Homo sapiens: one gene and its partners. The protein of the gene in region 1 interacts with the protein of each later gene in a pairwise test. Each region holds a gene or a part of one and is shown in the gene's direction. Other genes may lie near its edges.

Region 1 (3,500 bases):
AAAGTTCAGTAATCAAGAGTATAAATATTCTCAGAGTAGTGAAATTATTGCAAAGCATGGTGGAAGATGGGAATTTTCCCTTTATTTTTATGTATTTATTTTTGGAGATAGGATTTTGCTTTGTTGCCCAGGCTAGAGTGCAGTGGTGGGTCATGGCTCACTTGCACCCTCCACCTCCGGGTTCAAGTGATTCGCCTGCCTCAGCCTCTGGAGTAACTGGGACTGCAGGCATGTGCCACCATGTCTGGCTAATTTTTTTGTATTTTAGTAGAGATGGGGTTTTACCATGTTGCCGAAGGTGGTCTCAAACTCCTGAGCTCAGGCAGTCTGCCTGCCTTGGCCTCCCAAAGTGCTGGGATTACAGGAATGAGCCACTGCGCCCAGCCCTTCCCTTTATTTTAATGTGGAGGGGAGAACCAGTGGGTAAAAGTCTTAGGCTCCACCTAAGGAAATACTTCTCACCTTCAGATCGGAAAAGAAAATGGTCATTTGAACAGGGAGTGAGGCCCACGTCACAGCCACGAGGGTGTGCGCTTGAAAGAACCCTCAGAAACCATGACATGGTCAGGAGTGGGGTGTGCGGTGAGGCCAGGTCTCTCCAGGACCCAGTTCTGCTTGGCACCAGAGCCTTTTAATTCTCCTCTGAGTTGGATCTTGTTCCACCAGGGAGGTTGAGAGGTTGGCCTTTTCTTTCCATATTAATTTCCTCCTCAGTCATCAGACTGATGACATTCTGACCCTGCTGTGTAGTTTACAAAGCATATCAGAGCGTGTTGTGGGCCAGCCCAGGAGAGGAGCTGGTCATATCATTCATGGTGCATGTGTTGGGGAGGGGTGCTCCGGACGGCCTGGGCTGGTTTGGTGCTTGTGCAGTGGGGGTGGGGAAGGCTCTGGCCATGGGGAGATGCATTGCCCCTGGGTGGAATGTGGGCTGGCAGAGCCCCTGGGTTTCCCTCTCACCTGGTGGCCTTCACCCACAGAGGACTCTTTCATGTCCACTATTGGCTCTGCTGCTTCTGGCTGCTGGTGTCCTCTCGTAGTGGCTGCTGTGGGGCCATTTCTCTCTCAGACTTAATTTCATGGGAGCCACTGTAATAGGAGCAAAATCCCCAGGGTGTGGGGTTTGTATTGCAGACTGTGGCTCCAAGAGGCATCTCCAGGACAGAAGGGGCTTTGATATCTTCACCCATCTACACAGGCCTGGGCATTTCCTTGAGTCTCAGTGGGAGGGACACCAGCCATGGGATTTCCTCCTCTTTCCCCGTTTACAATAAAACCGTACTATGGAAACATCATATATGCATGCACCCGGTGCACTTCTGCAGACAGTGGGCTGTGTCTAGCTAAACCCAGCCTACTCTGCTCCAGCTGTTCCCCGAGAGGATTATAAGAGAGGTTGCAGACCCACCTGGATGCTCTGACCTCAGTCATACTGTGTGCCCCAGCTAGGGTAACAAGCCATCCTTCAGTTTGCATAAGACTGAGTAAATTCCCAGGATGCAAGACATTCAGTGCTGAAACCAGGACAGCTCCAGGCAAATTGGGACACTTGGTTATTCTACCTCGGCTGTTCTTCCTCCAGGCCTGCCACTCCATTGGAGTTTTGAGTCCAGATTTCTAGAATGTGCTGCATGCCGAGGAAGTCTGTCGGGGGGCAGGTGAGGGAGAGTGAGATGTCTTCTTTTCTTTTTCTTTTCCTATTCTTTTCCAACACATGCATTCACAGTCTTCACTGTGGCTAGCACAGGAGCCTCCATTGGCCAGCGCCGTATTTCCCTAAGCATTTGGTCTTGGCCCTAGGAACAGAGCTTTTGCTGTCTTTATTTGTCATCTCAAAGTGCATGGCCTTAAACTTGAGGTTCCCCACAGCACTTCACACTCAGCTGACTGCAGCAGGGCACTCTCTTCTGGTCATTTGTAAAGAACATCCATGGCTCCTGGACAAGACTCTTGCTTAGTAGTTGGCAAATGAGCAGAAGTATCCCCCTCCCTGCAGCTGATGTGTGTACCTGGGGCAGTTCCCATCCAAGTTCACATTACATCAGTGTTGGGATTCCATGTGTCTTGGCTTAGGAATCTTGGCACTCAAAGTAGGGGGCTTAGGAGCAAAAGAATCACACCTGTCCTGGAAGGAATGAGGGGGGCCTATCTGCTTGACTTCAAGGGACTCATTTCACTGTTTTTGTTTGTTTGTTTGTTTATTGTTGTTGTTGGTTTTCTGATGTGAAATGGAACAGGGGCAAATCTTTAAAGCTGGTGGAGTCAATTCCACAAACAAAACTTCCCTTCCTTTCTTAAGAGCTTTTTGTAGAAATCAGCCTTGCAATTAGCACTGCAACGTTCCAACCACTTAACACACTTCCCCACTGGCCTTTTGAAGCAAACAAGTATTTAGAAGCTGACAGGACAAAGTCACTTTATTTCTCCTTTTCCTTTACCTTGAAATTGTTCCTAGCCACAGGGCTGGCCACTCCTCACTGTCCAAAAAACTACCCTGATGCAGTATGCAGTGGCAGATCAGTTTAGTAAGGAATAACCCAAGTCACCGAATGCAAGAGAATGAAAACAAAAACAAAAACAAAAAAAACACCCTGTTGCATTAACGCAAGTATTCTCTGGGCTCTGTGTCTCTGGACGTGCATCTTCCAGAACCTGCAGGCGCGTGGCCTGCCCTCCACCTGCGTGGGAATGCATGCTGGATTTACATCCCAGTTACATCGCTTCCAGAAAGACAGGATCTCTGTTGGATGCCCATGAAGCTTATACTGAGTAAATATTGACAAAGTAGTCTAAAGAGCAAACACTTTGACATTTGTAAGGTCCACTGGAAGGTCTTGTATATATTTATACATCAGGAATGAGCACCGCATACCAATTTTCCTGAACTTGTTGTGACATAATTCTGCATGGAGAGTGTGTGTGCACAGGTGGCTGAGAACGGCTGAGTGTTCACATGGGGGACAGGGCTGGGGGCTGGGTGGTAGCTGGTCAGGGTATTTCCTCTCAACTGGAACGAACCCACACCTATCCCTGCCAGGAAACCTACCTCTAAGCTTTTCTGAGACCTGCTTTTCCAGAAGGAAGAAAGAAAAAAAAAAAGCCACAAAATCTTGTTTTTCCCTTATTACAATGGACGTACTTTTCTTTTTACTTGGTAAAAATTTTATTGATGTTTTTATACTTTATATTTATTAAAGATTGAGCCTCAAAAATGTAATGAGTAAAAAATGCTTGCTTAATTTAAATTGTGAATCTGTCTGTTAAGAAATGCATTAGGGGTAGGAGAAGCATAAGACATATTAATTGACAGACAGGAACTGCTGTCTCTGAGGTTGATACAAGTAATTTATTACTTTAGAAATGAATGCCACCTCCAGAATGTGCTTCATTAATTTCAAATTTAGTTTTAATTTCAAGCTGTTGCCCCTTGAGAAGAATAAGGTGGCAAATTATGTTTGAAGAGCAGATTTTTTTTTTTTTTTGCTCCAAAGAAACACCAC
Region 2 (3,500 bases), on another chromosome or scaffold:
TTTTTAGTAGAGACGGGAAGGGTTTCACCAAGTTGGCCAGGCTGGTCTCGAACTCCTGACCTCCGGTGATCCACCCATGTTGGCCTCCCAAAGAGGCCACCACGCCTGGCCTCTTTTTCTTTGAGACGGAGTCTCACTCTGTTGCCAGGCTAGAGTGCAGTGGCATGATCTTGGCTCACTGCAACCTCCGCCTCCCGGGTTCAAGCAGTTCTCCTGCCTCAGCCTCCCGAGTAGCTGGGATTACAGGTGCCCACCACCATGCCTGGCTAGTTTTTATATTTTTAGTAGAGATGGGGGATGGGGAAGGGGGGGCGGGGGGCGTTTCACCAAGTTGGCCAGGCTGGTCTCAAACTCCTGACCTCCGGAGATCCACCCATGTTGGCCTCCCAAAGTGCTGGGATTACAGGGTTGAGCCACCAAGCCCCGCCTGGAATTATATTTCTTTGAAGTGGGAAATCAAGTTCAGCTGGGCAAAGTATGTAACAATTGAAGACCATCATACTTGACTTTACCAGATACTACCACATTATTCCCTTGGATTAAGATACTGAAGACTTTGTAAAAGGCAGATTTATCAGAAATGAGTGGTGCCCAAAGGAATATGACACAAAACAGGTCTGTCAGGAGGAGTAGGAAGGGAAAGGTCCCGGGAGAGGTCTTGAACATAGGCTGCAGGCTGCTGCTCTTAGAAGAATGCAGAAGTAGAGGACTCTAGGCTCCCAGAGAGGCCTTGGTAAAAGGCCTCAGGGTGGTGCTTTGTTAAAAAACAAAGGCTACCTCAGGGTGGTGCTTCATTCTTCCTTGGATGTAACTTTATATAAAACATGAAGAAGAAGCACTTTTTCCGAATTTGAAATTATTCTGAGCAATCCGTTCTTTAAATTTGCTTTCGGCTGGGCACGGTGACTCACGCCTCTAATCCCAGCACTTTGGGAGGCCGAGGCGGTCGGATCACTTGAGGTCAGGAGTTCAAGACCAGCTTGGCCAACATGGTGAAACCCTGTCTCTACTAAAAATACAAAAAATTTAGCCAGGCATGGGGGCGCATGCCTGTAATCCCAGCTACTGTGGAGGCTGAGGCGGGAGAATCACTTGAACCTGGGACACAGAATTTGCATTGAGCCAAATCATGCCACTGCACTCCAACCTGGGCAACAGAGTGAGACTCTGTCTCAAAAGAAAAAAAAATTTGCTTTACTTTGTTTACAGTGATAACATTCAGCAATATCTGATGACCAATAATGTACCGGAGGCAGCCTCCACTCTAGTGTCTATGGCAGAACTTGACATTAAACTTCAGGAATCATCTTGTACTCATCTTCTTGGTTTCATGAGAGCCACAGTTAAATTCTGGCATAAAATTCTCAAGGACAAGCTTACAAGGTAGGGAATTTACCCATATTTTGTGGTAATTGCTTTCCGATGGGTATTTGGTGATCATTTGGTGATGTACTGAAATGTATGTGTTACTTTTCCATTGCAGTGATTTTGAGGAAATTTTAGCACAGCTTCATTGGCCATTCATCGCACCCCCTCAATCACAAACTGTTGGCTTAAGTCGACCTGCCAGTGCCCCGGAGATATACAGTTACCTGGAGACACTGTTTTGTCAGCTTTTGAAACTACAAACCTCGTATCTTTGTTGCAGCTGAAAACTTACTAAAATTTCTTTTTTCTAGAATGGGTTTGTGGCTAGAGAGTAAAACTTTTTCAAAGTGGCCAAGAAAGCCAAATAAGAATCCTGTGTTTGGACTTGGTCTGTAAATGTCCACTGAGTGGTGGACTGTACTCTTGCAAAGTGAATTGCTTGTAGGTGTGAGGGCTGTAAGGAAGAGTTCCGGGATACATGACTGATCCAAGTTCATAGCACAAAAAGGTCTCTTGGGGCAACAGAACAAATGGGCAATTGGGAGGAAACCTTTAGTGTCATAGCGTGAATTTAATCAAATGATACTTGAATTTTTTTTGTTACTATTTTAGGAAAGATTTATAGATTAATTCTAATACCATTTTTGTGCTTTTTTTTTTTTTTTTTTGAGATGGAGTTTCGCTCTTGTTGCCCAGGCTGGAATGAAGTGGCGTGATCTCATGATCTCGGCTCACCACAGCCTCCACCTCCCGGGTTCAAGCGATTCTCCTGCCTCAGCCTCCCGAGTAGCTGGGATTACAGGCGTGCACCACTATGCCCAGCTAATTTTGTATTTTTAGTAGAGACGGGGTTTTTCCATGTTGGTCAGGCTGGCCTCGAACTCCTGACCTCAGGTGATCCACCCGCCTCAGCTTCCCAAAGTGCTGGGATTACAGGTGAGAGCCACTGCACCTGGCTCATTTTTGTGCTTTTTTTAAAGACATGGTCTCACTTTGTCACCCAGGCTGAAGTGCAGTGGTGCAGTCATGGCTCACTGCAGCCTTGACCACCCAGGCTCAGTTGATTCTCCCACCTCTTCTTCCTGTGTAGCTGGGACTACAGGCACGTGCCACCATGCCCCGCTAATTTTTGTTGTTTTTTGTAGAGATAGGGTTTTGCCGTATTGCCTAGGCACGTCTCAAATTCCTGTGAAGTGGCCCAAGTGATTAGCCTGCTTCAGCCTCCCAAAGTGCTGGGATTACAGGCATGATTCACTATCATCATGCCTGGCTTTTTGTGCATTTTAACTGAATGTATATTCAATATAAAGAATTAACTGTATGTTTATTCAATATAAAATTAGGTTACATATTATTTGCATCATAATTAACTCTACTGAGTATCTGATACATTTGTTGGAAAAATTTATTGTGTGTGTATACATACATATGTGTGTGTATATTAGGTATGCTTTTGATTCTTTTTCCTTGACTTGATTATGTCAGAGATGAATTACTTACTGAGCCAAAGCAACTCCCAGAAAAATACTCTCTTCCTGCCTCCCCTTCTGTCATCCTGCCCATCCAGGTTATGCTGACTCCTCTTCAGAAGAGGTTCAGGTATCACTTCAGAGGGAACCGGCAGACTAATGTGTTAAGCAAGGTGTGTTTTGCCAGCTCTTGTCCTTGGTTTTTATTGGTAACAAATGTTAGAGTTTCTATACCTTTGCTGGTTTAAGTTAAAATCTGACTCTCTTCACATTTCTGTTTTTTTTCTAAAGGGCTACATTCCTGTTTTGTTACTGCTGTTCATACATATAATTGAGGACTTGTGTTCATATACTGTAGGAAAAATGGTATTTCCGCTCTTGGGCATCAGATATTGCTGAGTTATCATTGCAAAACAAAGCAAAGCAAATAGTAAGCACTTGGTATTTCTTTTCTTTTTTTTTTTTTGTGAGTTGGAGTCTCGCTCTGTCACCCAGGCTGGAGTGCAGTGGCACAATCTCTGCTCACTGCAACCTCCACCTCCCAGGTTCAAGCGATTCTCCTGCCTCAGCCTCCCAAGTAGCTGGGACTACAGGCACATGTCACCACACTGGACTAATTTTTGTAATTTTAGTAGAGATGGGTTTCACCATATTGGTCAGGCT
Region 3 (3,500 bases), on another chromosome or scaffold:
TCTTGCCTTCCTCTGTTCTCTGGCTTTCCCCTTCAACTGCCTTGGCAGCAGATTTCCGTGTCAATCATGTGGACCCAGAGGAGGAAATTGTAGAGCATGGAGCTATGGAGGAAAGAGAAATGAGGTTTCCCACACATCCTAAGGAGTCTGAAACAGAAGATCAAGCACTTGTCTCAAGTGTGGAAGATATTCTGTCCACATGCCTGACACCAAATCTAGTAGAAATGGAATCCCAAGAAGCTCCAGGCCCAGCAGTAGAAGATGTTGGTAGGATTCTTGGCTCTGATACAGAGTCTTGGATGTCCCCACTGGCCTGGCTGGAAAAAGGTGTAAATACCTCCGTCATGCTGGAAAATCTCCGCCAAAGCTTATCCCTTCCCTCGATGCTTCGGGATGCTGCAATTGGCACTACCCCTTTCTCTACTTGCTCGGTGGGGACTTGGTTTACTCCTTCAGCACCACAGGAAAAGAGTACAAACACATCCCAGACAGGCCTGGTTGGCACCAAGCACAGTACTTCTGAGACAGAGCAGCTCCTGTGTGGGTAAGCGCCCCTATGTCCTTGCACCTCGTGAGTTCCATTACCCTGGACCTTCCCCTCCCATCCCTTCCCCTCCTTTTCTTTTCGTCATGTTCTTCTCTTTCTGCTGCAGCCGGCCTCCAGATCTGACTGCCTTGTCTCGACATGACTTGGAAGATAACCTGCTGAGCTCTCTTGTCATTCTGGAGGTTCTCTCCCGCCAGCTTCGGGACTGGAAGAGCCAGCTGGCTGTCCCTCACCCAGAAACCCAGGACAGTAGCACACAGACTGACACATCTCACAGTGGGGTAAGAAGGTTCCTCTCAAAGCTTGAGGGATCCCAGTGGGGATCCTTGGAATTTAAGCTGAGAAGCTGCCAGAGGGCAAAGGGGACTCCTATCACAGGCTTATACTTAGAACATTTGCAAAAGCTGAGAATCTGGGCAGTCACAATGGCTGATGCCTGTAATCCCACTGCTTTGGGAGGCCAAGGTGGGAGGACTGCTTGAGGCCAGGCATTTGAAACCAGCTTGGGCAACACAGCGAGATCCCATCCCTACAAAAGATTTTTAAAAAATCAGCTGGATATGGTTTTGCATGCCTCACTACTCAGGAGGCTGAGGCAGGAGGATCATTTGAGCCCAGGAGGCTAAGGCTGCAGTGAGCTATGATCATGGGCAAGACAGTGAAACCCTGTCTCTTAAAACAAAAAAGCTGAGGATCTGGAAAATCCCCTTAAAGCTGTGGGTAGTCACTCTACCCCTGGGGTACATCAGAACTTTCCAAAGGAGTGCAAGCAAGGAAACTTTTAAAGGAATTGGTTTTTAGATCATCATCTTCCACAAGTATTCTTTTTCTTCGTTTTTTGCATTGGTAGACTATATTTAATATTTTAAGAAAAATTATGAATAAGCCTAAAACATTTTTTAAAATAATTTTTAATTTTTGTGGTTACAGAGTTAGGTAAATATATTCATGGAGTCCATGAGATGTTTTGATATAGGCATGTGATGGTCAATAATCACATCATGGAAAATGGAAAATGGAGTATCTGTATCTGTCCCCTCAAGCATTTATCCTTTGTGTTACAAGCAATCCAATTATACTTTTAGTTTTTTTTTTTTTTTTTTTTTTTTTGAGACGGAGTCTCACTCTGTCACCCAGGCTGGAGTGCAATGGCCTGGTCTCGGCTCACTGCAACCTCTGCCTCCCAGGTTCAAGCGATTCTCCTGCCTCAGCCTCCTGAGTAGCTGGGACTACAAGCGCATGCCACCCCACCCGGCTAATTTTTGTATTTTTAGTAGAGACAGGGTTTCACTATGTTGGCCAGGCTGGTCTCGAACTCCTGCCCTCATGATCCACCTGCCTCAGCCTCCCAAAGTGCTGGGATTACAGGCGTGAGCCACTGCGCCTGGCCCCTGTTGTTTATGTGAAGAAGATTTCTCAGTGTTTACATCTGTCAGAATGGAAAGGAGTCAGCTGGCATAGTGGCTCACCCCTGTAATCTCAGTACTTTGGGAGGGTGAGGTGGGAGGATCGCTTGAGCTCAGGAGTTCAAGACCAGCCTGAGAAGTATGGTGAAACCTCATCTCTACAAAAAAATACAAAAATTAGCTGGGTGTGGTGGTGTGTGCCTGTAGTCCCAGCTACTTGGAAGGCTGAGGTGGAGGATCACTTGAGGCTAGGAGTTCAAGGCTGCAGTGAACTGAGATCTTGACACTGCACTCCAGCCTGGGCAACAGAGCCAGACCCTGCCTCAAAAAACAGAGTCACGAATTGTTGCTGAACTATTTCTTATTGCTGGAATTATAGTAATCCACAGATATACGAACTAATAAGGGGAAGGAATCTCCATCGATTTCATTAATAGGTGATTCCCAATTAAATTTTGCCGAGCATGTTTATTTTATTAGAAATTATATTACAGTGACTAATATACAACTGATTAAAAGATTTCTCTATCCTAAAGAAAGCTTTTTCACTTTAAAGCCTTCCGGTCAAAGGAATTTAAAGGAAATTTTAATTTAAATTTAGATGAACTTTCATTGTTGTTGCAGAGATGATGGTTAATAACAGATTTTATTTTTATTTTTTGAGATAGTTTCTTGGTCTGTCACCCAGGCTAGAGTACCATGTTGCGATCAGGGCTCACTGAAGCCTCAGCTTCCTTGGCTCAGGTGATCCTCCCACCTCAGCCTCCTGGGTAGCTAGGACTGTAGGTGTATGCCACCACACCTACCTAATTTTTTTGTATTTTTAGTAGAGATGGGGTTTTGCTATGTTGGCCAGGCTGTTCTCAAACCCCTGGGCTCAAGTGATCTGCTAGCCTTTGCCTCCCAAAGCACTGGGATTACAGGTGTGAGCCACTGTGCCCAGCTAATAACATACTTTAAAGCATAAAAATATATTACATTAGGCTGAAATTCTGAGAAAAATAAAAAATATATGTTCAAAGAGAAAAAGGGATGACATAATAAAATTTCTGACTGCTAAGAAGAGCTTTTTCTTGTATTTTTAAAAGATAGCAACTAGGTATCTCATCATTTTGGTGTATGTAGTATTTATGCCACTGGATATATTTAAGAGTAATCTAATAATTTTATTTTAGGCTGGGCATGGTGGCTCATACCTGTAATCCCAACACTTTGGGAGGCCGAGGCGGGAGGATCACCTGAGGTCAGGAGTTCAAGACCAGCCTGGCCAACATGGCGAAACCCCGTCTTTACTAAAAATACAAAAATTAGCTGGGTGTGGTGGAGGGCACCTGTAATTCCAGCTACTTGGGAGGCTGAGGCATGAGAATCGCTTGAACCCGGGAGGCAGAGGTTGCAGTGAGCCAAGATCGCGCCACTGCACTCCAGCCTGGAGGATAGAGTAAGACTCTGTCTCAAAAAAAAAAAAAATTATTTTAAATTGTCAATATTGGTAATATGCTGGACATTACAGCCTTTGCAACAATTTAAACTTAAGGGTACTTAGT
Region 4 (3,500 bases), on another chromosome or scaffold:
CCATTAACTCGTCGTTTACATTAGGTACTTCTCCTAATGCTATCCCTCCCCCATCCCCCCACCCCACGACAGGCCCTGGTGTGTGATGTTCCCCTTCCTGTGTCCAAGTGTTCTCATTGTTCAGTTCCCACCTATGAGTGAGAACATGCAGTGTTTGGTTTTCTATCCTTGCGATAGTTTGCTCAGAATGATGGTTTCCAGCTTTATCCATGTCCCTACAAAGGACATGAACTCATTCTTTTTAATGGCTGCATAGTATTCCATGGTGTATATGTGCCACATTTTCTTAATCCAGTCTATCATTGATGGACATTTGGGTTGGTTCCAAGATTCTGGTATGTTGTGTCTTTGTTCTCATTGGTTTCAAAGAACATCTTTATTTCTGCCTTCATTTTGTTATTTACACAGTAGTCATTCAGGAGCAGGTTGTTCAGTTTCCATGTAGTTGTGCGGTTTTGAGTGAGTTTCTTAATCCTGAGTTCTAATTTGACTGCACTGTGGTCTGAGAGACAGTTTGTTGTGATTTCTGTTGTTTTACATTTGCTGAGGAGTGCTTTACTTCCAACTAAGTGGTCAATTTTTGAATAAGTGTGATGTGGTGCTGAGAAGAATGTATATTCTATTGATTTGGGGTGGAGAGTTCTGTAGATGTCTATTAGGTCTGCTTGGTGCAGAGCTGAGTTCAAGTCCTGGATATCCTTGTTAACCTTCTGTCTTGTTGATCTGTCTCATATTGACAGTAGGGTGTTAAAGTCTCCTATTATTATTGTGTGGGAGTCTAAGTCTCTTTGTAGGTCTCTAAGGACTTGCTTTATGAATCTGGGTGCTCCTGTATTGGGTGCGTGTATATTTAGGATAGTTAGCTCTTCTTGTTGAATTGATCCCTTTACCATTATGTAATGGTCTTCTTTATCTCTTTTGATCTTTGCTGGTTTAAAGTCTGTTTTATCAGAGACTAGGATTGCAACCCCTGCTTTTTTTTGCTTTCCATTTGCTTGGTAGATCTTCCTCCATCCCTTTATTTTGAGCCTATGTGTGTCTCTGCACATGAGATGGGTCTCCTGAATACAGCACACTGATGGGTCTTGACTCTTTATCCGATTTGCCAGTCTGTGTCTTTTAATTGGGGCATTTAGCCCATTTACATTTAAGGTTAATATTGTTATGTGTGAATCTGATCCTGTCATTATGATGTTAGTTGGTTATTTTGCCCATTAGTTGATGCAATTTCTTCCTAGCATTGATGGTCTTTACAATTTGGCATGTTTTTGCAGTGGCTGGTACTGGTTGTTCCTTTCCATGTTTAGTGCTTCCTTCAGGAGCTCTTGTAAGGCAGGCCTGGTGGTGACACAATCTCTTTGCATTTGCTTGTCTGTAAAGGATTTTATTTCTCCTTCATTTATGAAGCTTAGTTTGGCTGGATATGAAATTCTGGACTGAAAATTCTTTTCTTTAAGAATGTTGAATATTGGCCCCCACTCTCTTCTGGCTTGTAGGGTTTCGGCCAAGAGATCTGCTGTTAGTCTGATGGGCTTCCCTTTGTGGGTAACCCGAGCTTTCTCTCTGGCTGCCCTTAACATTTTTTCCTTCATTTCAACCTTGGTGAATCTGACACTTATGTGTCCTAGGGTTGCTCTTCTCGAGGAGTATCTTTGTGGTGTTCTCTGTATTTCCTGAATTTGAATGTTGGCCTGTCTTGCTAGGTTGGGGAAGTTCTCCTGGATAATATCCTGAGGAGTGTTTTCCAGCTTGGTTCCATTCCCCCCATCACTTTTGGGTACACCAAACAGACATAGATTTGGTCTTTTCACATAGTCCCATATTTCTTGGAGGCTTTGTTCATTCCTTTTTACTTTTTTCTCTAAACTTCTCTTCTCGCTTCATTTCATTAATTTGATCTTCAATCACTGATACCCTTTCTGCCACTTGATCAAATCAGCTACTGAAGCTTGTGCATGTGTCACATAGTTCTCGTGCCATGGTTTTCAGCTCCATCCGGTCATTTAAGGTCTTCTTTACACTGTTTATTCTAGTAAGCTATTCATCTAATCTTTTTTCAAGGTTTTTAGCTTCCTTGTGATGGGTTTGAACATCCTCCTTTAGCTTGGAGAAGTTTGTTATTACCGACCTTCTGAAGCCTACTTCTGTCAACTCGTCAAAGTCATTCTCCATCCAGCTTTGTTCTGTTGCTAGTGAGGAGCTGCGATCCTTTGGAGGAGAAGAGGCGCTTTGATTTTTGGAATTTTCAGCTTTTCTGCTCTGGTTTCTCCCCATCTTTGTAGTTTTATCTTCCTTTGGTCTTTGATGATGGTGACCTACAGATAGGGTTTTGGTGTGGATGTCCTTTTTGTTAATGTTGATGCTTTTCCTTTCTGTTTGTTAGTTTTCCTTCTAACAGTTAGGTCCCTCAGCTGCAGGTCTGTGGGAGTTTGCTGGAGGTCCACTCCAGACCCTGTTTGCCTGGGTATCGCCAGCAGAGGCTGCAGAACAGCAAATATTGCTGCCTGATCTTTCCTCTGAAATCTTCATCTCAGAGGGGCACCTGGCTGTATGAGGTGTCAGTCGGGCCCTACTGGGAGGTGTCTCCCAGTTAGGCTACACGGAGGTCAGGGACCCACTTGAGTAGGCAGTCTGTCCGTTCTCAGAGCTCAAACACCATGCTGGGAGAACCACTGCTGTCTTCAGAGCTGTCAGACAGGGACATTTAAGTCTGCAGAAGTTTCTGCTGCCTTTTGTTCAGCTATGCCCTGCCCCCAGAGGTGGAGTCTACAGAGGCAGGCAGGCCTCTTTGAGCTGCGGTGGGCTCTACCCAGTTCAAGCTTTCCTGCCGCTTTGTTTACCTACTCAAGCCTCAGCAATGGCAGATGCCCCTCCCTCAGCCAGGCTGCCACCTTGCAGTTCAATCTTGGACTGCTGCGCTAGCAGTGAGCAAGGCTCCATGGGCATGGGACCCACTGAGCCAGGCATGGGATATAATCTCCTGGTGTGCCACTTGCTGAGACCATTGGAAAAGCGCAGTGTTTGGGTAGCAGTGTCTGGATTTTCCTGGTACAGTCTGTCACGGCTTCCTTTGGCTAGGAATGGGTAATCTCCCTACTCTTGCACTTCCTGGGTGAGGCAATGCCCCACCCTGCTTCGGCTCGCCCTTTGTGGGCTGCACCCACTGTCCAACCAGTCCCAACGAGATGAACCAGGTACCTCAGTTGGAAACGCAGAAATCACCTGTCTTCTGCATCAGTCACACTGGGAGCTGCAGACTGAAGCCTTTCATATTTGGCCATCTTGGATGCCCTTGGGTTTATTTTTAAAAATGCATCATTATAGTCTTGTTTTTCCCCTTTACTAGTTAGAAAATTATATACTTCTGTTCAGTTCTTCAGTGGATGTCCTAGAAATTCTCAAGCATCCTTAACTTATACAAAAGCCCAGTGTTAACAGATACCTTTACCAGTGTCCACCTCCATTGTAAACAAACTTAGAACACTGTTACTCCATTTACC
Region 5 (3,097 bases), on another chromosome or scaffold:
CAAATGAATATATGAATCTCTACCCTACACAATAGTTTTAAGGGTAAAATGAGATGAGAATGGTAAAGTGCGTGGGAGCAAAGGAAAGTCTTGTTCCAGCGGAGGACAGGAAAGTGAGGGTGGGTTAGAGCAATCAAGGGGAGGTGGTATCTGAGCTCAGCTTTGAAGGACAAGAAAAATGCCCATTGGCTCCTGATTAGTGAGGCAGTCATGTCAAACATGGAACACTGTCACCTTTGGAGATCAGAATTGGGTTGGTCAGATATGAAAGGCAGCAAGTTTGTGGTAAGATTGGAGAGGTAGGCTGTTATGAGTTGCTGTTGGCTAGGAAGCCTCAATATGGGAGAGGGCCTGTCTGAGCTCTTGGGCCCAGGAAAAAGTATATGGGCCAGGACTGCTGCACCCCTTTCTAACAATCCCACATTGTGTTTTTCAGCCATGTGATCATTCTGGGTGACCTGAATACAGCCCACCGCCCCATTGACCACTGGGATGCAGTCAACCTGGTAAGGCTCCCTCTAGGTGCCTGGCCCCACTCCTGACTGATTCTGTTTGTCCAGCCAACCAACCCTGAGTTTTTGGCCCAGGGACAGCTTCCTTTATGGGAAAGCGGAGCTTGGCTTGCAATACTATTCTTATAGTACTGAGGATTGGTCATTCATTCAATAGACAATACTGACTCTGCCCATGGCCTGGCCCTGAGCCACATACTGAGGACTCAGGAGTCAGATCCAGCCCTTGGCTCCTAGGAGCTCTCCAGCATGGTGGTGGGCTACAGACACATGGCTAGCCAATTATAGGATGGTATTCTCAGGGCAGAGGCACAGATGGCATCCCAGAAAGCTACAGGAGCTCAGAGATGGGATTCCTAGGTGAGCTCGGACATCAGGACAGGCAGCTGAAAATGGCTGAATCTTAACAGATGAGTAGAACAGAGCTTTGAAGTAGAAAGCATTCTAGCATGGGCAAAGGTTTCAAGGTGAGAATTTGCATTGTGTGCATGGGGAACCACAAGTCCCTTTCTTCTTAGTGACACAGGAAGGGAGGTGAGTGGCAGAAGGTGGGGCTGGAGAGTTGTTGGGGGTCAGATTTCAAGGACTGTGAATTCCACATTGCCTTGGTCATTTCCTTAATACACTGTATTTCTTGTTTATGAACTTTCAGTACCTCCCTGTTACCTCTGTGATGCAGAGAAAACATGGAGACCTAGCATTCAAGGCTCTCCTTGGTCTGTGACCTGTCTCTTATTTCCACCTTCAGTGTCCCTACACATTTTGTCCTCTCTAGACAGGTTGTCTCCTGTCGGCCCGTTGTAAAAGTTATTCTCATTCTGGCTTTTCTCACTGTGCCCTGAATTGGTGGACATGACCCCCTCCCTGTCTTTTTGTTATATGAACCTCTTATCTCTAAGTTCCCCTAGGCCCATGGTTTTCAGCCCCTAACTGCATATTAGAACAAAAATATCAATATCTTAGCACTACTCCAGATCAATGAACTCAGAACTCTCGAGTGTGGGGCCAGGGTAGTGGCACGTTCTAAAAGCCCCCAGTGTGACTTTATTGTGCAGCCAGGCTTGAGAACCACTGCCCTAGAATCCACAAGCCAGCTCTCATCTTTTCTTGCCTTATGTCTCACGATGGGGGATCAGTGATTTATGCTGGTACAGTCCTACTCAGCACTGGGCTTGGCTTAGAGAAGGGACCGTGGGAATATTCCTTGATTAATTCACAGAAGAGCTACATAAATGTAGATATGGCTCCCAGCTGGGAAAATGAGCAGAAGTGAGAGAATGAGAGAATGGTGGTGGTGGTGTGGTGGGGAGCGGAGATAATGCTACAAAGTGTGAGCCTTCAGTCCCTCCCTGCCTCATTCCTCTTATGCATTCATTCAGTGTGTTCTTTCAGATTCCTGTGATAGCATCATACATCTTTGTGCCTTTTCTACTTAGTTCAGAGGTATCCTAGATCTCTTATGTATACCTCTTTCATTTTCTCCTCCAGGAAAAGAGAACTAATAGTGCCAGCTCAGATGACTTACACAGTCTTTCCAAAATAGCAGAACATACCCACTTTCTACCAGGCTTGCTCTTTTAGTCTTGTCATTTCTGTAAATGGCACCATCATCCCCTTGATTGCTTCAACTTAAAGCCTGGGAATTGTGCTAGTATTGTCTTTCTTTCTTACTCCACTTCCCACATTCAGTTAGTCAGCAAGTACTGTTGATTCTAGCTACAAATCATCTCATAATTTCATGTTTCTGTCTCCTCTGGCACCCACCCTAGTCCAAGTGACCATCATCTTGCTTGTGTGACTATGGCAGCCATTTCCTGCTGGTATTCTGGTCTCCAGTCTGGTCTTTCCTCAAGTCTTTTGGGTACGCAGCACACTCCCTCCACAGGCCCAGCACAGAGACTGTTCTTAAAGTTAGGAGCACCCTCCACCTAGGTTACTCTTACTCAGCCCCCACACCTCAGCTCCAGATCACTTCTCGAAAGGAAGCCTCCTTGGTCCCCAGGAGTAGATCAGGTTCCTACTTTGTCCCTGGCATCATGCATGGCACATAATAGGTATTCCATGAACATTTCTTGCATTGAATGAGTGGGTGGGTAGGTGGATTGAATGGATGGACTGATGGATGATGGATTGGGGATCAGAGCCTAAGGAAGTATTCAGACCTGGATCCTTGCAGGTCCTCAGCTCAGGAGGTAGGAATGGTCATTGAGGGCTTTGACACACTAGATAAACCAAATAGTGCCAGAGGGTTTAAAGGAAGAAGCTGACAGTCTTCCTAACTCTTAACCCCAGCCCTGCTTCCTAGAGGCAAACACTTTTAACTTCCTGTTTTCCATCCTTTTGAAAAGCAGTTCCAGGAATTGCTTTGAGTAAGCAAACTTTCAGATTTGCCATTGACGGACCAATGCAAGACAAATGCAAGCTCGTGCAGAGGGAAAAACAAGCATGGTCTTTTAAATCAGTAAGGATGAAAATCAGAATCCCAGCTCTGCCAATTCCGGACTGTGTGACCTTGAGCAGTAGTCCTCTTGGGACAACCAAATTTTCTTATTTGCAAAATGCAGCAGTTAGTCTAAGTCCCTTCC
Region 6 (3,106 bases), on another chromosome or scaffold:
GCTAACATGGTGAAACCCTGTCTCTACTAAAAAATACAAAAATTAGCTGGGCATGGTGGTGCACACCTATAATCCCAGCTACTCAGGAGGCTGAGGCATAAGAATTGCTTGAACCCAGGAGGCAGGGGTTGCAGTCAGCCGAGATCGCGCCACTGCACTCCAGCCTGGGTGACAGAGTGATGACTCCATCTCAAAAAAAAAAAAAGCAAAAAACTGGTCACCCAGTCTGCAGAATGATAAAGTCAGTAAAAGTTACCTACGTATATAGGTTTGAAAAGGTCTACTGTTCTCAGCTTCATTTACACATACAGGTATGGTAAATGGTATGTGTAAATGGTATGTCTCTATTCCTCTGAATACTGCTTTTTATTTCAAGAACACCACAGTGTTAGTTTATAGTGAAATACTCTGCAAAGTTTCAAACATGTTTATTTGAAAGTCTAATTAAATGATAGCAGAGAGAAAATTTCCTGAAGTGTAATCTTCTTTTATACTGTCAGTATGTGCTTGATTGAATTAAGGAATTTATATTTGGTTTTACTTTTCTTAAAAGTTCCAAAATTATTTTTCCCCTAGGAAGATGAGAATGTGCCTACTGCTCCTGATCCTCCAAGTCAACATTTACGTGGGCATGGGACAGGCTTTTGCTTTGATTCCAGGTAGTTTTCTTCTTTACTTTGTAGAATTTGGGTTATATCGGCCAGTGGTTCTCAAAGGTGGTCCTTGGGAACTCATTAGAAATGCACATGTGTAGGGCCTGGCCTAGCTGAACCAGAAACACCAGGCGTAGGCCCAGCAATATGTGTTTTAACATGTCCTCCGATTTAGGGAGTTTTGTCAGAAAACATTTTTAACTTGCAGTATTTAAAAGAATATTTACTGTTCCTAAAATGTCATTCAAATGCATGTATTGTCTGTTGTTTGGGGATGGGAACTAGTTTTGCAAAAAACACCTAATGTTGTATAATAATGCACCAATGATCTTGCTGGTTAAAAATACAGTATTTTTGGCCAAAAACAAAAACATGTCCTCCGACTGATTCTGATGCATACAAGCATTTGAGAACCAGTGCCATAAAAACTTTGCTATTAAACCAAATGCACTGGTGGGAAGTTATGAGTTGTATTTATCCTTACAGTCTTACAAAAGGCATTTTCTGTTAAACGTGGAAGAATTCTTGGTACTAATTTCACGTAATTGTGATTGGATTTGGGAGGTTTTAAGGGGGAAAAACGGTTTTGTTAATCTAATTGTAAAATTGAATTTAGAGGCTCTATAAATGGGTTACACAATTGTCTACAGCAAGCATTTAGAAGCAGAGAAATGTTTCTGGAGTAAAGACTTTTAAGGTAGGTTGTTTAGTATGAATATCAGCTAACTAGATAAATGGAACCTTGTCATATATGGACAAGTTGTTGTTCTACATTTATTAGAAACATGTAATTCTTTCATTTTTCTCTTTAAGCTTTGATGTTCACAAGAAGTGTCCCCTCTGTGAGTTAATGTTTCCTCCTAACTATGATCAGAGCAAATTTGAAGAACATGTTGAAAGTCACTGGAAGGTGTGCCCGATGTGCAGCGAGCAGTTCCCTCCTGACTATGACCAGCAGGTGTTTGAAAGGCATGTGCAGACCCATTTTGATCAGAATGTTCTAAATTTTGACTAGTTACTTTTTATTATGAGTTAATATAGTTTAGCAGTAAAAAAAAAAAAAAAAACCACACCTAAAATAGACCACTGAGGAGACCATAGAGCGGATGCTTTCATGCACCCTTTACTGCACTTTCTGACCAGGAGCTACTTTGAGTTTGGTGTTACTAGGATCAGGGTCAGTCTTTGGCTTATCAATAAATTTTAATCTCTGTTAATCTTACCTGCTTTAAAAAAAAGTTCTTGTGTGTTCGTATCTTTATTTATTCCCTAGTTTGCAGAACTGTCTGAATAAAGGATACAAGGATTATTTCAATGTTACTGCACTGAAAAACGTGTATGTATTAGTGTGCTAGATTATTTAGCAGAATATTCACAAGTTTCTGTTGACCTTGTTGATTGAGCATGACTACTAAATATTATGTAATAAAAAGCATTTGTCATAACAGTCTTATGAAGTAGTTCTTCGAATATAGAAAGTTCTATAATTTAGCCCATGAAATGATAGGTTTTTAATTTTCAGAAATGGAGCTGCATGTAGAATGAGATCACATGCTTTTATATGTGAAATATTGGTTTTAGCAATTAACAGAAGGCATACTTTGCTAATTTTATGGCAAAATTTTAGAATAACCTGAATGATTATTTTTAAACTATCTTGAAGTTGTATGTATATATCTAATGGGAAAATGGAACAAGAGATGTCAGTATAATTGTTTTCCTATTAAATGATCTCATAACAGGGGTGTTTGTGGCATAAAAATCATAGAATATATATCAGTATCTTTTTTACATTTTCCTGATGAGAATATAAATTTGAAATATTCTCAGTAAGTGATTAAAAGTACAATACATAAACCCAAATCAAAGTAATGTGTTTCTTCAGTTATGTCTGTGCTGTATAGAACTGTCACTAACATTAAAGAAAGAGGACACATTTTTCAAGATCTGTAATTTCATTGTTGTCAAATTTATTTGTGAAAGTTTTTCATTAATCTAGCATCTTGAACATCTTTTTTTGGTTTGGGCCTTTAAAATACTTCTGAATTGTATTCCCTTTCCCTTTTATAATGTGCGTGTGAATAATTTAAAGCACCAACTTTTGATTTTGCCGCTTTTGTAGTTATCATCAAAATAGTTTACATTTGTTCTGAGCAAACTAGCTATTGAAGATGTTAACCTAATATTTAGACTTGGTGGCATTTTGAGTTGCTATATGTGAACTGCAGCATATCATGTCGTCACTTGTATTTGTTTGTGGAAGCAGAGTTTGTATATTGTTAGAATCCTTTAAAAAGTTTTTTGAGTCTAGGGCAAACCAGTATGAGGCATTCATATGCCAGCTGTTAGGACACAGCAGTCCTAGGAAGCAATAGCTTTGGAGACTTTCAGCTTCCAGATAGGTTATATACTTAGGTAAAATATGTTCAACAATGGGAGCATTTTTGTTGGAG
Region 7 (3,500 bases), on another chromosome or scaffold:
TATGTAAAAGATAAAATTGCTTTTAACATGAACTGTTAACCTTTAGGCAAACAACAAGAGAAATATCATTTTACACTTTTTAGGTTATCTTTAAGTAATACATTTTTTGTTTTTACATTTATTTCTGGTTTTGGAAACCAGTAAGTATTTTCTTACTTTTATCTACATGTTAAATACACAAACATGCATACACACACATATTTTCTGCTTTATTCCTTTTGGAATACTTGGAGTACTTGAGATAGTCTTTGTTATTATTGAAGTATATGTGTACTCTTCCGTTTGACTAAAATTAAGTTTATTATTTTTGACGTTGGGACAACAGTTTACATTTTTATCACAGTTTTTTTATTGATTGGCTTTTTAGTAATATTTTAAATGACTGAGGTGATGTTTAAGATATTGGCTGGATATTTTTTGGATATCAAGAATGTAAATTAGATAGTCCAATTTATAGGTTTCAGGATTTTGGTTTTAAGTATGGGATCTTATTTTTGTCATACAGTTTGGAATCTGTGAGTGCAACGTGTAAACAGCTGAGCCAAGAACTAATGGAAAAATATGAAGAACTGAAGAGGATGGAAGCACATAACAATGAATACAAAGCAGAGATTAAGAAGGTAAAAATCTGCATACCTAGGATTGCAAAATTGTATGTGTTTATGGACAAAGCTGTGGATTGGGAGATTATAGGGGTTATTTTTAATGAGAAAAAAATGTAGTTCAAGGGACCACTTGATATTTAGGAGTGGAAGAGTTTGTGGAATGTGCATAGGGAAAGTGCCTTCTTTCTTTGGCATCGCCCCTGATGCCCAATAAATATTTTTAAGATAATTGAAGGCTGTCCCCTTTGAACTCAAAAACTTTATTTTAAACATGTTTTGATGAAAAGTTTTCTAAAAGACATACACTCTGTTGCTTGCAAAAAAATATGAACTGTCACTTAATATTTTCTTATTGCCTAAAGATAGTATTTATGTATTGTCTCCTGTGCTATGATGTAGTTAGTATCCTTGTCAGCTATTGAGGTATGCAGAGCTGTTTGTGTCTATATGAATGGGCCCTAACTGTCCTATTTGTTTGATTTGTATTTTTTGTTACTTCTTTAAGATTACTTCTAGTTCCTTACTTCCTCTTGTTCTATTTGTTATCCTGTGGACTAAGATACCATATGAGCAAAACTTTTAGATTCACAACTAAAAAAAAGAATGAAGGTCACAAGTACTCTCCTCTAAATTGTGTGCATGGACCTTGATTCTGGTCCTCAGCACTTGAATAACCCATCTCTCCCTGTTTTGAGGTATAATAAATGATTGTAGGTATAACCACCTGACCTTCAGTACAGATATGCAACTTGGTAAATTGCTAATTTTTCTGCAGATTTAATTTAAGAGAAATTTAATGTCTTGAGATAAGGTGAACTTTTATTTTATTAGCTAGTAACATATTATTCTATCTAAATGCTTTCTCTTAACTTTTGGTGCTTTCTTTTCTGCTTCTTTATAGTTGAAAGAACAGATTTTACAGGGTGAACAAAGTTACAGTTCTGCACTAGAAGGAATGAAGATGGAAATCTCCCATCTAACTCAGGAGTTACATCAGCGAGATATCACTATTGCTTCCACCAAAGGTTCTTCCTCAGACATGGAAAAGCGACTCAGAGCAGAGATGCAAAAGGCAGAAGACAAAGCAGTAGAGCATAAGGTGAAGCCTGAACAAAACCTTTTTTAAATTTGAAATTTGTTTTAAAGATGGAGTTGATTAAAGACATAATTTTCATAATATTTAATTCAGTGAATTTTTATTAGATACCTGCTTTGAGCTGAGAGTATGCTGGCTAGCAAAGAGTTTAGTGAGCATGGTGGGGAGGTGAGAGTAGACACAGACAAGTAAAGTGACTGTATCAGTGGTGTATGGTGAGAGTCACTAGAGATCACAAGCAGCCTGAATCTAGACCACTCGCTGCAAAGGCCTTCCAGAAGGTGTGATAGCAAAGCTAAGTTAGGAGCAAGCTGGGTGATGGGGAGGAAAAGTGTTTCAGGCACAGGAAAATACAGAGGTCTCTAAGAGAGAGTAGAAACACGCTTGCTGTGGTTGAAACTAGAGTACAAGTGGGATGAGTGGAAGGTATGAGACTGGAAAGCAGGGACTGGCTGCTGAAGGGCTACGTTAGCCACGTAAAGGAGTTATACTGTGACCTTGAGGTCAGTAGGGAATGGCTGCAAGCAGGAGTAAAATTCAGTGGTCCTTAAATGGAGAATAAGCAGGGAGACAGAGCACCCAGATGCTGTTACAGTGGTAAGATGGTGGCCTGAGCAGTGGGCAAGGGAGGCAGAGGGAAATGGATGAATTCTGGAGATACTGGGCTGGTAAAAATGACTGGGCATTGTATTTGATTGGCAGGGAAGGTGAGGTAGGCAGAGTTAAGGAATGGTGCTCCACAGGATTTAAACTTAGGCAACTGATGGAAAGTGATGCTTTTTAATGAAATAGAGAAAAGACAGGGAGCAAGTTTGGTGAAGGATGATGAATTTGTGTGAAAAGTACACAGACTGGGGAAACTGGTGGAGAGGACATTGGTTTGACACATTTGTTTGGAATAAAGGCTGGAATTTTGTATGGGTAATAGTCAATTCCACAGAAGGCCTGGAGTTGAAGATTAAAATCAGGATTAGGCATTTAGCTGTGGCTGTCCTTTCTTCATGGTGACATTTGAAACCCCCTGAGAGACTTAATGATTATAGTGAGAAAGCATAGCGTAAGAAGAGAAGTGACTCAAACCAAACTTAGGATACTTCTCATTTAGTGTAAAAAAGATGTTGGAATGAAGCTTAAAAAAAGGAGCAGTGAGGAGGGAAATCAGATAGTTTTTGCCAAGCCAAGGAAAGAAGGAATATTTTCAAATGGGAATGGTCAAGCACAAAAGCTGAGGGGAATGAGAACTGAATATAAGTTGTTATTTTGTGAATAAAGTACAATTCCATGTGACGTTGCAGGTAGAAGCCAAATTGGAGGAGGCCAGCACAGGAGAATGGGTAGGGATTTAAGGGGTTCAGTGGATTGAAACTTTGCTGCTTTGTCACCTGATTTATCCTATTAGAATGATATCTTCATCCCATTCATGTTCATTCACCTTAATAACATCTTAAAAATCTTTTTAGAAAGTCCATATATATATATATATATATATATATATATACACACACACACGTACATATATATATGTATATATATATATAAATATGTATATGTATATATATATAAATGAAGAATATGACTTAGCCTAATGAAAATTCCATGTGGAAAAATTTTGTAAGATGCATGTGATTTACATGTTATATTTATTTTTTTCTGTTTTCCCCTTTTCAGGAGATTTTGGATCAGCTGGAGTCACTCAAATTAGAAAATCGTCATCTTTCTGAAATGGTGATGAAATTGGAATTGGGTTTACATGAGGTACATAAATAGAAACTTAAGTTTTTCTACTATCCAAGCCTTCA

Evidence for each region.
Region 2: the proteins of TSHZ3 (region 1) and RINT1 interact in binary tests that used the Homo sapiens proteins (3 or more experiments, as listed by UniProt).
Region 3: the proteins of TSHZ3 (region 1) and SPAG5 interact in binary tests that used the Homo sapiens proteins (3 or more experiments, as listed by UniProt).
Region 4: the proteins of TSHZ3 (region 1) and CEP70 interact in binary tests that used the Homo sapiens proteins (3 or more experiments, as listed by UniProt).
Region 5: the proteins of TSHZ3 (region 1) and APEX2 interact in binary tests that used the Homo sapiens proteins (3 or more experiments, as listed by UniProt).
Region 6: the proteins of TSHZ3 (region 1) and TAX1BP1 interact in binary tests that used the Homo sapiens proteins (3 or more experiments, as listed by UniProt).
Region 7: the proteins of TSHZ3 (region 1) and CEP63 interact in binary tests that used the Homo sapiens proteins (3 or more experiments, as listed by UniProt).

What each region holds. Positions count from the first base shown.
Region 1 is NC_000019.10:31,279,937-31,283,436, reverse strand, and holds part of TSHZ3 (teashirt homolog 3), read left to right. Parts: intron 1-3,500. UniProt on the Homo sapiens protein: Transcriptional regulator involved in developmental processes. Functions in association with APBB1, SET and HDAC factors as a transcriptional repressor, that inhibits the expression of CASP4.
Region 2 is NC_000007.14:105,545,701-105,549,200, forward strand, and holds part of RINT1 (RAD50-interacting protein 1), read left to right. Parts: intron 1-1,209; coding exon 1,210-1,383; intron 1,384-1,483; coding exon 1,484-1,633; intron 1,634-2,848; exon of another isoform or gene 2,849-2,853; coding exon 2,854-3,010; intron 3,011-3,128; exon of another isoform or gene 3,129-3,267; intron 3,268-3,500. UniProt on the Homo sapiens protein: Involved in regulation of membrane traffic between the Golgi and the endoplasmic reticulum (ER); the function is proposed to depend on its association in the NRZ complex which is believed to play a role in SNARE assembly at the ER.
Region 3 is NC_000017.11:28,589,026-28,592,525, reverse strand, and holds part of SPAG5 (sperm-associated antigen 5), read left to right. Parts: coding exon 1-544; intron 545-653; coding exon 654-828; intron 829-3,500. UniProt on the Homo sapiens protein: Essential component of the mitotic spindle required for normal chromosome segregation and progression into anaphase. Required for chromosome alignment, normal timing of sister chromatid segregation, and maintenance of spindle pole architecture.
Region 4 is NC_000003.12:138,573,761-138,577,260, reverse strand, and holds part of CEP70 (centrosomal protein of 70 kDa), read left to right. Parts: intron 1-3,500.
Region 5 is NC_000023.11:55,003,363-55,006,459, forward strand, and holds part of APEX2 (DNA-(apurinic or apyrimidinic site) endonuclease 2), read left to right. Parts: intron 1-436; coding exon 437-506; intron 507-3,097. UniProt on the Homo sapiens protein: Functions as a weak apurinic/apyrimidinic (AP) endodeoxyribonuclease in the DNA base excision repair (BER) pathway of DNA lesions induced by oxidative and alkylating agents.
Region 6 is NC_000007.14:27,827,162-27,830,267, forward strand, and holds the end of TAX1BP1 (tax1-binding protein 1), read left to right. Parts: intron 1-576; coding exon 577-659; intron 660-1,466; coding exon 1,467-1,668; 3' UTR 1,669-2,606; downstream 2,607-3,106.
Region 7 is NC_000003.12:134,548,557-134,552,056, forward strand, and holds part of CEP63 (centrosomal protein of 63 kDa), read left to right. Parts: intron 1-505; coding exon 506-620; intron 621-1,506; coding exon 1,507-1,704; intron 1,705-3,369; coding exon 3,370-3,456; intron 3,457-3,500. UniProt on the Homo sapiens protein: Required for normal spindle assembly.